2 linked regions of the Homo sapiens genome follow. The protein of the gene in region 2 purifies or fractionates together with the protein of the main gene of each other region. This does not show direct contact. Each region holds a gene or a part of one and is shown on either strand. Other genes may lie near its edges. The genes, in order: NOPCHAP1 and SPAG1.

What was found.
Region 1: the proteins of SPAG1 (region 2) and NOPCHAP1 purify together in Homo sapiens (affinity purification with mass spectrometry, with the first as the bait; one large-scale study listed by BioGRID). This does not show direct contact.

The regions. Positions count from the first base shown.
Region 1 is NC_000012.12:105,010,243-105,014,059, reverse strand, and holds part of NOPCHAP1 (NOP protein chaperone 1), read right to left. Parts: 3' UTR 1-3,817. UniProt on the Homo sapiens protein: Client-loading PAQosome/R2TP complex cofactor that selects NOP58 to promote box C/D small nucleolar ribonucleoprotein (snoRNP) assembly. Acts as a bridge between NOP58 and the R2TP complex via RUVBL1:RUVBL2.
Region 2 is NC_000008.11:100,164,824-100,168,640, reverse strand, and holds part of SPAG1 (sperm-associated antigen 1), read right to left. Parts: intron 2,828-3,817; coding exon 2,668-2,827; intron 1-2,667. UniProt on the Homo sapiens protein: May play a role in the cytoplasmic assembly of the ciliary dynein arms. May play a role in fertilization. Binds GTP and has GTPase activity.

The sequences.
Region 1 (3,817 bases), on a different chromosome or scaffold from region 2:
GTGACACTAATCATCTCTGTGTGAACAGTTCCTCTCTGCAGTAAATTGCCTATCACAGTAAAAAGTGATCTCTCGGCTGGCTGGCAAGATGGCCAAATAGGAACAACTCCGGTCTGCAGCTCCCAGCGAGATCAACGCAGAAGGCAAGCGATTTCTGCATTTCCAACTGAGGTACCCAGCTCACCTCATTGGGACTGGTTAGACAGTGGGTACAGCCCATGGATGGGGAGCAGAAGAAGGGTGGGGTGTTGCCTCACCTGGGAAGCACAAAGCGTTAGGGAACTCCCTCCCCTAGCCCAGGGAAGCCAAGGGAAGCCAGGGAACTCCCTCCCCTAGCCAAGGGAAGCCATGAGATACTGTGCCGTGAGGAACGGTGCACTCCGGCCCAGATACTATGCTTTTCCCACGGTCTTCACAACCCGCAGACCAGGAGATTCCCTCGGGTGCCTACACCACCAGGGCCCTGGGTTTCAAGCTCAAAGCTGGGTGGCTGTTTGGGCAAACACCGAGCTAGCTGCAGGAGTTTTTCTTCATACCCCAGTGGTGCCTGGAACACCAGCGAGACAGAACCGTTCACTCCCCTGGAAAGGGGGCTGAAGATAGAAAGCCAAGTGGTCAAGCTTAGCAAATCCCACCCCCACAGAGCCCAGCAAGCTAAGATCCACTGGCTTGAAATTCTCACTGCCAGCACAGCAGTCTGAAGTCAACGTGGGACACTTGAGCTTGGTGGGAAAAGGGGTGTCCACCACGACTGAGGCTTGAGTAGGCAGTTTTCTCCTCACAGTGTAAATAAAGCCACAGGGAAATTCAAATTGGGCAGAGCCCACCACAGTGCGGCAAAGCAGCTGTGCCTAGACTGCCTCTCTAGATTCCTCTCTGGCAGGGCATCTCTGAAAGAAAGGCAGCAGTCCCAGTCAAGGGGATTATAGATAAAAGTCCTATCTCCCTGGGACAGAACACCTGGGGGATCGGGTGGCTGTGGGCGCAGCTTCAGCAGACTTAAACATTCCTGCCTGCCAGCTCTGAAGAGAGCAGATCTCCCAGCACAGTGCTCAAGCTCTGCTAAGGGACAGACTGCCTCCTCAAGTGGGTCCTTGACCCCTATGCCTACTGACTGGGAGACACCTCCCAGCAGAGGTTGACAGAAACCTCACACAGGAGATCTCCAGCTGGCATCTAGCGGGTGACCCTCTGGGAGGAAGCTTCCAGAGGAAGGAACAGGCAGCAATTTTTGCTGTTCTGCAGCCTCTGCTGGTGATACCCAGGTAAACAGGGTCTGGAGTGGACCTCCAGCAAACTCCAGCAGACCTGCAGCAGAGGGGCCTGTTAGAGAAGGAAAACTAACAGAAAGGAATAGCATCTACATCAACAAAAAGGACGTCCACACAGAAACCCCACCCAAAGGTTACCAACATAAAAGAGCAAAGGTAGGTAAATCCAGGAAGATGAGGAAAACCCAGCGCAAAAAGGCTGAAAATTCCAAAAACCAGAACACCTCTTCTCCTCCAAAGGATCACAACTCCTCACCAGCAAGGAAACAAAACTGGACAGAGAATAAGTTTGACGAATTGACAGAAGTAGGCTTCAGAAGGCAGATAATAACAAATTCCTCCGAGCTAAAGGAGCATGTTCTAACCCAATGCAAGGAAGCTAAGAACCTTGAAAAAAGATTAGAGAAATTGCTAACTAGAATAACCAGTTGAGAGAAGAACATAAATGACCTGATGGAGCTGAAAAACACAGCCCAAGAACTTCGTGAAGCATACACAAGTATCAATGGCCTAATCGATCAAGTGGGAGAAAGGATATCAGAGATTGAAGATCAACTTAATGAAATAAAGCGTGAAGACAGATTAGAGAAAAAAGAATGAAAAGGAACAAAGCGTCCAAGAAATATGAGACTATGTGAAAAGACCTAGCCTACGTTTGATTGGTGTACCTGAAAGTGACAGGGAGAATGGAACCAAGTTGGAAAACACTCTTCAGGATATTATCCACGAGAACTTCCCCAACCTAGCAAGACAGGCCAACATTCAAATTCAGGAAATACAGAGAACACCATGAAGATATTCCTCGAGAAGAGCAACCCCAAGACACATAATCATCAGATTCACCAAGGTTGAAATGAAGGAAAAAATGTTAAGGGCAGCCAGAGAGAAAGGTTGAATTACCCAAAAAGGGAAGCCCATCAGACTAACAGTGGATCTCTCTGAAGAAACCCTACAAGCCAGAAGAGAGTGGGGGCCAATATTCAACATTCTTAAAAAGAAGAATTTTCAACCCAGAATTTCATATCCAGCCAAACTAAGCTTCATAAGCGAACGAGAAATAAAATCCTTTACAGACAAGCAAATGCTGAGAGATTTTGTCACCACCAGGCCTGCCTTACAAGAGCTCCTGAAGGCAGCACTAAATATGGAAAGGAAAAACTGGCACTAGCCACTGCAAAAACATACCAAATTGTAAGGACCATCAACACTATGAAGAAACTGCATCAATTAATGGGAAAAATAACCATCATAATGACAGGATCAAATTCGCACATAACAATATTAACCTTAAATGTAAATGGACTAAATGCCCCAATTAAAAGACACAGGATAAAGAGTCAAGATCCATCAGTCAAACTGGATAAAGAGTCAAGACCCATCAGTGTGCTGTATTCAGGAGACCCATCTCATGTGCAAAGACACACATAGGCTCAAAATAAAGGGATGGAGGAATATTTACCAAGCAAATGGAAAGCAAAAAAAAAGCAGGGGTTGCAATCCTGGTCTCCGATAAAACAGACTTTAAACCAACAAAGATCAAAAAAGACAAAGAAGGGCATTACATAATGGTAAAGGGATCAACCCAACAAGAAGAGCTAACTATCCTAAATATATATGCACCCAATACAGGAGCACACAGATTCACAAAGCAAGTTCTTAGAGACCTACAAAGAGACTTAGACTCCCACACAATAATAGTGGGAGACTTTAACACCCCACTGTCAGTATTAGATAGATCAACAAGACAGAAAATTAACAAGGCTATTCAGGACTTGAACTCAGCTCTGGACCAAGTGTGCTTAATAGACATCTACAGAACTCTCCACTCCAAATCAACAGAATATACATTCTTCTCAGCACCACATCACACTTTTTCTAAAATTGACCACATAATTGAAGTAAAACACTCCTCAGCTAAATGCAAAAGAACGGAAATCATAACAAATGGTCTCTCAGACCACAGTGCAATCAAATTAAAACTCAGGATTAAGAAATTCACTAAAAAATGCACAACTATGTGGAAACTGAACAACCTGCTCCTGAATGACTACTGGGTAAATAACGAAGTTTAGGCAGAAATAAATAAATTATTTGAAACCAATGAGAACAAAGACACAACATACCAGAATCTCTGGGACACAGCTAAAGCAGTGTTTAGAGGGAAATTTATAGCACTAAATGCCCACAGGAGAAAGCGGGAAAGATCTAAAATCGATACTCTAACATCACAATTAAAAGAACCAGAGAAGCGAGAGCAAGCAAATTCAAAAGCTAGCAGAAGACAAGAAATAACTAAGATCAGAGCAGAACTGAAGGAGATAGAGACACAAAAAACCCTTCAAAAAATCCACGAATCCAGGAGCTGGTTTTTTGAGAAGATTAACAAAATAGATAGACCACAAGCCCAATTAATAAAGAAGAAAAGAGAGAAGAATCAAACAGACACAATAAAAAATGATAAAGGGGATATCATCACTGATCCCACAGAAATACAAACCACCATCAGAGAATACTATAAACAACTCTATACAAATAACTATAAACAC
Region 2 (3,817 bases):
GCCAAAGCAGCCCAGGAGTTCAAGACTAGCCTGGACAACATAGTGAAGCCCTGTCTCTACAAACAATTAAAAAAAAAAAAATAGCCAGGTGTGGTGGTACACACCTGTGGTCCCAGCTACTCTGAAGGCTGAAGTGGGAGCATCGCTTGAGTCTGGGAGGTCAAGGCTGCAGCGAGCTGTGATGGTGCCACTGCACTCCAGCCTGGGCAAAAAAGCAACGTATCTGATAAAGAACAATTATTTGGCAACTCAATAAGAACACAAGGCAATTTTTTTTTAACGGGCAAAGGATGTAAAGACACCTCACAATAGAAGTTACATGAAAAGACACTCAATATCATTAGTCACTAGAGATACGCAAATTAAAACCACAATGAGATACCTGGTAGGATGGCTAAAACTAACAAAACGGACAATACTATGTGCTGACCAGGATGTAAAGCAGGTGGAAATTTTATATATTGCTGTCAGGATTGCACAATGGTACAGCCACTTTGGAAAACATTTTGGCAGTCAAAACATAGTATATTTAGGGCTCAGTATTATCTAGGTTTTAGGCATCCACTGCGGGTCTTATCAAAGGTAAGTGGGTAAACAAACTGTGGGATATTCATACAATTTCATACTACTTAGCAACTCAGAGGAGCAAACTATGGACACATGCAACAACACAGATGAATCTCAAAAGCATTATATAAGTGAAAGAAGACACACAGGAATGACAACATACTGTATGATTACATTTATATGCAAGTCTAGAAAAGGCAAAACTATGCTGACAGTTCAGTGGTTGCCAAAGGCCAGGCAGTGGGGTCTACACTGACCACAAATGGGCAAGAGAAAACTTTTAGTGGTGATGGAAATGTTCTGTATCATATACGTTTGTCAAAACTCAGTGAAATGTACACTATAAAGTTGGTAATTTATATGGAATGTAAATTTTATCTCAATAAAGCTGATTAAAAGAAATCTGTAAATATTTAAGAAGAAATTTAAGTGACAGATTCATGAAAAATAACTCAACTTTTCTAGCAATCAAAAAATATACTACAATAGTCCTCCCCTTATCTGTAATTTTGCTTTCTGTGGTTTCAGTTACCCACAGTCAACTGCCATCCAAAAATAGGTGAGTACAATACAGTAAGATATTTTGAGAGAAAGAGAGCTCATATTCACATAACTCTTACAACAGTATGCTGTTATAATTGTTCTGTTTTTTATTGTTAATCTCTTAGTGTGCCTAATTTATAAGTTAAACTTTATCATAGATATGCATATAGAGGAAAAAGCATGGTATATTTAGGCTTCAGTACTATTTGCAGTTTTAGGCATCTACTGGGGGTCTTGGAAAGTATGCCCCAAAGATAAGAAGGGACTATGGTACTACCATTTTTTCAACTATTTAATTGACTAAAAATGATTACAGTATCCAGCAAAGAGTACCTAAAAATGGGCATTTTGTTTGTTTGTTTTTGTTTTTTTTAATAAAGAAACCAGGTCTCTCTGTATTGTCTAGGCTGGCCTTGAACTCTTGGGTTCAAGCAATCCTCCCTGAGTAACTGGGACTATAGGCACACACCACTGCACCTGGCTTGGGCATTCTTATACACTGTTGGGGGTGGTGTATGAAGGTACAACTTTTCTGAGAACATATGTTTGAAAAGGCTTAAAAATATTCAAATCCTTTGATCAAACAATTTAAATTCTTTTTCTCTTTCTCTTGCTTTTTGTTTTTAGACAGGGTCTCACTCTGTCACCCAGGCCGGAGTGCAATGACACCATCACAGCTCACGGCAGCCTCGGTCTCTCAGGATAAAGCGATCCTCCTGTCTCAGCCTCCTGAATGGCTGGGATTACAGACACATGCCACCACGTCCAGCTAATTTTTATATTTTTGTAGAGACAGCTCTACCTATGTTGCCCAGGCTGGTCTCAAACTCCTGGCCTGAAGTGATCCTTCTGCCTCAGCCTCCCAAAGTGCTGGGATTACAGGTGGTGTGAGCAACCACATCTGACCAAGCAATTTGAATTATAATAATTTATCCTGAGGAAATAATCAGGGAGGTGCAAAAAAATTACAAATAGGCCAGGCATGGTGGCTCACACCTGTAATCCCAGCACTTTGGGAGGCCGAGGTGGGTGGATCACCTGAGGTCAGGAGTTCGAGAAGTCTGGCCAATATGGTGAAACCCCATCTCTACTAAAAATACAAAAATTAGCCAGGCATGGTGGCATGCACCTGTAATCCCAGCTGCTCGGGAGGCTGAGGCAGGAGAATCACTTGAACCTGGGAGGCAGAGGTTGCAGTGAGCCAAGATCGTGCCACTGCACTCCAGCCTGGGCAACAAAGCAAGACTCCATCTCAAAAAAAAAAGAAAAAAAATTACAAATAAACATGTTTATACAGCACTATTTATTGAAGATGATTAAATTATAGGTTTTTTAATAGGACAGAATATTATTTAATCAATTTAAATATACACATGTACGGACGCACACACACGCGAATTCGCAATGTTCCCCTGGGTGTAAAAAGCAACCAATCCTGCCTAATTGACACTAAAAGCCCTTTACGGACAAACAAGAAGCCTAGGATTTCCGATAAGTGAAGTAAACATATATAGAATGTCTCAACAATATCTATGGAAAATTGGTATTACTATATACCTTTATATCACCATCAATTTTTTCCCATTCTTCAGCTGTAAAACTGGCTGCTGTTGCTGCTGGTTTATCTTTCCTCAAAGCTCTGCTTTCAGGGGCCAAGGCTTGAAGATGCTTTTCACAAAATTCTGTAAGTTCAGGATAATATCCTTCCTCACCAGATCTTAAAAAGAAATAAATAAGTTTTAGAGTTAGCACCTTATTTAGGATCATCTAGACCAGCGGTTTGCAGGCTGGGTTCCATGGAACCCTGAGGTTCTGTGGAGATCTCAAGGGCTGCTTCCCAGTCTCTTTCCTTAACCCGCATAGTCTCCATTTTTACCCGTTAATCTATGGAATGATTAAAAGAAGAAAAAAAGGAACTCCAAAGTAACCAATTTTCATCACACACTTTAAAAACTGGATAAGGGTGAGTGGGGCGGTGTGGTCCCCGGCACCGTGGAGGAAGTGGGGTTGCTCCGCGGAGTTGGCGTGGGTTCTGGGTTCCTCCCGGCGCCACCATGTCAAAGGTTTCCTTTAAGATCACTCTGAGGTCTGACCCGCGGCTGGCGTACAAAGTACTCTGTTCCTGAAAGTACACCTTTCACAGCAGTCTTACAGTTTGCAACAGAAGAATTTCAAGTTCCTGCTGCAAGAAGTGCAATTATTACCAATGATGGAATAGGAAAAAATCCTGCACAGACCTGCTGGAAATGTTTTTCTAAAACATGGTTCAGAACTGCGAATTATTCCTAGAGTCGTGATGGAAGTTGTTAATATCGGCTGCTTGGAACATACAATTACCTTTCAGAATAAATATTGGTATTTTTTGTTGCTGTAAAATTGAAATCAGGCATTTAACACACTATGAAAACACCAAGAGTCAATGAATAATGAGACTCATCTGTCCCTGTTTGTTGTCTGTACTCTTCATGTGAAGAGGGAATTCATATGAATTAAGGGTAATAGTGTCACAGAAGATTGCTACCTCACACACAAACAGGTAGTTCATTTGGGGTGAATGGATTCTCCAACTATTTTATAACTGGGAGCTTCTGATAATTTTTTGGAAAACATTTGAAACATTAAAACTTACTGAATCTTACATATTTGTCTGAGTTAAAAATATAAAAAGAATTATGGATCATGGATGGTAATTTGCTTGATAGCATCT